Linked DNA regions of Homo sapiens: region 2 is linked to region 1. Evidence: fine-mapped expression QTL. A gene starts in region 1. The other region holds a variant in brackets. All regions are shown on one strand. Distances are from middle to middle. Region 1 holds the start of C10orf95-AS1 (C10orf95 antisense RNA 1). Region 2 overlaps C10orf95-AS1 (C10orf95 antisense RNA 1).

The links. PIP is the estimated chance that this variant, and not a neighbour inherited with it, causes the effect.
Region 2: its variant is fine-mapped to the expression of C10orf95-AS1 in caudate (GTEx, PIP above 0.99). The same link has a PIP of 0.9 or more in hypothalamus.

The regions. Positions count from the first base shown.
Region 1 is chr10:102,448,055-102,450,958 of GRCh38, forward strand. It overlaps C10orf95-AS1 (C10orf95 antisense RNA 1), which reads left to right and starts at 1,763. Exons shown (of 3, transcript NR_038938.1): 1 at 1,763-1,968; 2 at 2,133-2,276. C10orf95 (chromosome 10 open reading frame 95) reads right to left here. Exons shown (of 2, transcript NM_001363580.1): 2 at 1,783-2,904. The coding sequence ends at 2,398. RefSeq lists silencers at 2,324-2,403, 2,444-2,904.
Region 2 is chr10:102,456,078-102,458,981 of GRCh38, forward strand. It overlaps C10orf95-AS1 (C10orf95 antisense RNA 1), which reads left to right. Exons shown (of 3, transcript NR_038938.1): 3 at 1-216. Among named protein-coding and RNA genes, the nearest start is that of SLC68A1, 3.9 kb to the right of the region's middle. RefSeq lists enhancers at 1-70, 71-658, 659-1,247. The variant T/C (reference allele first, on the strand shown) is at 1,758.

The sequences.
Region 1 (2,904 bases):
AGGTGAAACTAGGGATAACAGAGTTCAGGATGCAGGTTTTATATAAAAGACACTAAGCAGGCCGGGCACGGTGGCCATGCCTGTGATCCCAGCACTTAATGAGGCCAAGGCGGGCAGATCACTTGAGGCCAGGAGTTTGACACCAGCCTGGCCATCATGGGAAAACCCCATCTCTACTAAAAATACAAAAATTAGCTGGGCGTAGTGGCACACACCTATAATCCCAGCTACTTGGAAGGCTGAGGCAGGAGAAGCGCTTGAACCAGGAGGTGGAGGTTGCAGCTGCAGTGAGCTGAGATCATGCCACTACACTGCAGCCTGGACAACAGAGTGAGACTCTGTTTCAAAAAAAAAAAAAAAAAAAGACACAAAGCAAATTTGGCTCTGAGCTCCTTGGAAACCAGGACCAAAAGAAAAATATGATCAGTAATGAGATTCGTAGCGCTTAAAAGACAAAAGCAAACCACTGATCAGGAGAAACACCTTTTCCAAGGGCTGAGGTTTGAGACAACTTCTCCAAGAAGCTCACAAATACAGCAGTGCCCAATCAGCTGGCCTACAGCTTCAATAACTCACCTGTGTATACCCAGGTAACTATTGGTCAGTTACAAATGGAAGTTCAGTAAAAGAAATTTCTACAGCTGGGCCTCAAATCTGGCTAGATCCTAGTTAAAATTGGCTATGTGGCCTAACATTCCAGAAAACTCCTAGAATATTGCAAACCTCAGCCTATTAAGAATTAACGATTATTAGCAAGAATTGGGAGACAAGAAGATACATTCATCTTTTTTTTTTTTTTTTTTTTTTGAGACGGAGTCTCGCTCTGTCGCCCAGGCTGGAGTGCAGTGGGGCCATCTCGGCTCACTGCAAACTCCGCCTCCCGGGTTCACGCCATTCTCCTGCCTCAGCCTCCCGAGTAGCTGGGACTACAGGCGCCCACCACCTCGCCCGGCTAATTCTTTGTATTTTTAGTAGAGACGGGGTTTCACCGTGTTATCCAGGATGGTCTGGATCTCCTGACCTCGTGATCCGCCCACCTTGGCCTCCCAAAGTGCTGGGATTACAGGCATGAGCCACCGCGCCGGGCGGAGACATTCATCTTAACTTCCAATTAGGCCGGGCCGAGACATTCATCTTAACTTCCAATTAGGCTGGGTTACTTTTACGCCTCTTTTACTGATGAAGAAACTGAGAGTCAGAAAGCCTTAAGTTACACAGGTAGAAAATGTCAGAGCCAGCCCTAAACTCAGGTCTCAGACATCCCTCTCCTAGTGAAGCCTTCCACACTTCAAAAATAGAGCTTATGCCCTCAGCATCTCGGAGGGTGGTGGGCCAAAGGACCAAGGAGAGTTAGAAGGTGCTGGCCTGCACACTTGGAGGGAGATGGTGAAGAGGGCAGCTGGGCCCAGCGATCAGACACATGCTTTCTCCAGAGGGCCAGTTCAACTTCACGCCCCTCCACCCTACCTTCCTGTACCCCAGGGTGGGCGGTAAGACTCCCATTAAACAGATAAACAGATGGAGAAACACCACCCCAAAACATAACAATGATCTCGCAGTGTATACTTGACTTCGCTCATTTATTTATTGTTTTTTTTTTTGTTTGTTTTTGTTTTTGAGACAGGGTTTCAGTCACCCAGGCTGGAGTGCAGTGGTGCGTTCGCGGCTCCTTGCAGCCCCGCCCTCTCGGGCTCAGGTGATCCTCCCATCTCCGCCTCCCGAGTAGGTGGGACTACAGTAGTGTATCAGCACACCCGGCTATTTTTTTTTTTTTTTTTTTTTGTAGAGACAGGGTTTCGCCATGTTGCCTAGGCTGGTCTCCAACCTGGTCTCCTGGGCTCAAGCGATCCGCCCGCCTCGGCCTCCCACAGTGCTGGGATTCCAGGCGTGAGCTACCGCGCCCGGCCTATTTACTTTTCTTACTAAGCTGGGGATCACCGTCGCCCTCGGCTTGGCAGGAAGGCGGGGGTAGGGGAGCGGTGGGAAAGGGGGGTGGGCGACGACTCTGATAGAGGGAAAAGAGGAAGGGAAAGTTGGGGCTTACTGCAGGGCAAGCTCCTTAGGAGAAGGTGGGGAGGAGGAAGGAGGGAGGTCCAGGCCCTTCTTCCATCCCACGTCCTCCACTTCCCAAGGTGCAAGAAGAAAAGAGGTACAGAACACCCAGAGGTGCCCTCGATTCCGTCTTGCACTTGCCCTTCTCCCACCGTCCAGCAATAAAGCGAGAGAAACAAGTGCAGGAAACTGGCCGGCAGTCATGGGAGAAGCCAAAAAGACAGGTGAGCAGCGCGTCCGCCTCCCGCGCACAGGTGAGGGCTCACTTCTGCCTGTCGGCGGCGGCACACACAGGAAAGAGCCAAGCGCGTGCACGCGGGCCCGCCCCTAGGCCTTGCGGCGGCTTCAGCTCAGGCCCTTGCTCTTCCTGGGGCGGCCGCGCTCCGCGGCTTCCCGGGCTGGGCTGCTGTCGCCGCTGTCGGGCCGGCGCCGCACGCGCCACTCCACGCGGTGGTCGGGCTCGAGCACGCGCGGCGTCGCCTGCAGCAGGAACTGGCCGCGGCGCTGGGTGACGCGCACGTCGGCGCGGGGGTAGGTGCCGTACGCGCGCCGCAGCTCCCGGCGCACGAAGTCCGGTAGCTGCAGAGGGGGGCCCCGCGCGCGCTCCACGCGGCCCCAGCGCAGCTCGGTTTGCAGGCTCCCGCCCTCCGGCCACGGCGCCCAGCTCTCGGCCACCGCCGCGGGCGCCTGCAGCGACAGTCCCGAGATGCCGGCGGCGGCGCAGGGCCGGCGCAGGGTCGTGGCGTAGGCCGGAGGGCAGGCCCACCAGGGCGGCGCGGCCTCGGGTGGCGCGGCGGGGCCGTAGAAGCGGTGGTATTCCCGTGGGGCCGCCCACTCGCCCGCATGCAGGCT
Region 2 (2,904 bases), 8.0 kb after region 1:
TGAAAGACTTAACCAGCCATCACCGGCTTTGAATACGGAAGACGGTCATGAGCCAGGGAATGCAGGCAGGCTCTGGGAGCTGAAAAAAGCAAGAAAATGGATTCTCCCCTGGAGCCTCCAGAAGGGATGCGGTCCTGCCAACCCCTTGTCAGTGAGCCATTTCAGATTTCTGACTTCCAGGACTGTAAGAAAATAAACTTGTCTTGTTTTCAGCCACCAAGTTTGTGGTGATTTGTTACAACATCAGTAGGAAACTAATACACCTCCCTGCTCCTGTTTATAACTTCGTCCCTGTCCTAAAATCCCAGCACCTGGGAGTATTCACGGCTATCCATGGACTGACCACACCCCAGCCTGGAGTTCAGTAGTGGACCCATGGCACTGGCCAGGTTTTCCATCTCTTCTGGGTGGAGAGTGGGGAGCAAGCAAGACGAAGCTCAAGTGGAGCCTGGGAAGGAAATTTTCAGGCAAAATGAGAAAAATAATGGCCAAGCTGTGAGTTTCTCAGTATTTGTTCACCCTGATTCCAGTGCCAGTCCCCAGTATTTTGAAGTCCCACACCTTATCTATTCTCAGGAAAGTAGTTCTGGTGGAGTTGAATCTACTGTATCCTTAGGTTTGGGTGATTTAGGGCTAAGCCTTTCAGCACAGCCATCCCTCTGGCCATAGTGATTGACTTGGGCTAGCCCTTGACATGATATGGGCCAATGCAAGTCAAGCCTAGGACTTTATTTTCTTGTTGGGTGGAGGGGATTTTCTGCTTTTCCCAGGACAGAAATCAGAAAGGGTCCTGGACTTAACTTACACAGGCCAGTAAATTCCTTCTTTATTTAAGCTAGTTTAAATGGTCTATTGCTTCCACCAATGATACACCCCAGGATATTTCCTAACCGTCCCCCCCCCCGCCAGCACTTTGTTATGAATTATGAAAAAAAATTTTTTTTTAGACGAGTCTCTTTCACCCAGGCTGGAGAGCAGTGGTGTGGTCATAGCTGGGCTCAAGCAATCCTCCCACCTTAGCCTCCTGAGTAGTTGGAACTACAGGTGTGCCTCACCACATTCCACATAATTTTTAAAAATTTTTTATTTTATTACTACTTTTTGAGACAGAGTCTCACTCTGTTGCCCAGGCTGGAGTGCAGTGGCGCGATCTCGGCTCACTGCAACCCCCCGGGTTCAAGCGATTCCCCTGCCTCAGCCTCCCGAGTTGCTGGGACTATAGGCGTGTGCCACCGTGCTCGGCTAATTTTTTGTATTTTAGTAGAGACGGGATTTCACCATGTTGGCCAGGATGGTCTCGATATCCTGACCTTGTGATCCGTCCACCTTGGCCTCCTAAAGTGCTGGGATTACAGTTGTGAGCCACTGCACCCGGCCTGATTTTTTTATTTTTTGAAATTTTTTATAGAGATGGAGTCTCACTATGTTGCCCAGGCTGGTCTCCACCTCCTGGGCTCAAGCGATCCTCATGCCTCAGACTCCCAAGGTGCTAGGATTACAGATGTGAGCCACTGCATCTGGCCATGAAAATTTTCAGTATATAGCAACCTGAGAAGCTTTTGCTCAGGGAAGCTTGCGATCGGAAACTCACTTGAGGGCAAAATGGAGGACAGATTAGAGAGCGTGGGGGTGGAAGCTAGTCATGGAGGAGGTTCTCGTGTTAGCTTATGAAAGCTGAGAACCAAACAGGAGCAAGGGATGGAAAAGACAGATGGGAGTAGGATTCACCTGGACTTGATCCAAGATGGTGGTTTTGA[T/C]GAAGTGCGTAGGATGGAGGGTGGATGCACATGTTTCCGCCTTGGCCACCTCAATGGACAGTTAAGGCAGTCCTGGAGGTAGAAAATGCTGGAGGGAGATTGGAAGTTTAAGGAATGGTGAATTCGGATGGGCCATTCTGGATATTCTCTTCAGGTTGGACATGGGAGGTGTGGAAGTAGTCATGAAGGAAAAGGTACTAGGTGAAATTACCGTAACAGCTGCCACCCTGGGCTTGTCTCCATCTGGTCCCTATCACACTATTGACATCTTGGCTGCCAGCTTGTTTGGACCCCACTCAACGCCTCTTGCAGGTAGCTATCTTGTTTTTTTTATTTTTTGAGACAGAGTCTTGCTCTGTCAACAGGCTGGAGTGCAGTGGCGCGATCTTGGCTCACTGCAACCTCCGCCTCCCGGGTTCAAGCGATTCTCCTGCCTCAGCCTCCTAAGTAGCTGGGATTACAGGCATCCATCACCGGGCCTGGCTAATTTTTTGTGTGTTTTTTAGTAGAGATGGGGTTTCACCATATTGGCCAGACTGGTTTCAAACTCCTTACCTCAGGTGATCCGCCCACCTCGGCCTCCCAAAGTTCTGGGATTACAGGCGTGAGCCACCGCACCTGGCCAGCAATCTTGTTTTTGAAGTCCCCTTTACCTCACAGCCTGTGGCCTGGCATGGATTAAAAGTTTGAGTGAGTATATGAGTATTCAAGATGGAAACTTGGGACACCCTCCCTTTTCCTTTAGAGGCCCTGGGAGAAAGTGCCGCAGTGAAGGGGACTGAGGAGGAATTATTAGGTAGGAAGAGAACATGGCAGAAACTAGATCAGAGAGGTGGGAAGTAAAGGGAGGAGAGAATTTCAAAGACAGAGAGTGCACAATCTATCTGTCCCATGGTCCAGGGACTCCGGTATGGCTCAATGAGTTAGGGAGGTGATATGGCCTCTAGTTCATTGCATTTCCCCTCCCAGTTAGCTCTGTGACTGGCAACCACAAAGAGAAATCAGACAGAATCACAAGGCCCTGCCCTGATGCTGACATAAAAGGTAACTGGCTACGTTGTCTATATAATCAGAGGGTTGAGGGGCCTCAGAGTGTAACTGTGGGGCATTAAGTGCAACGTGAGAGACCAAAGGTCTTTTCTTTTTT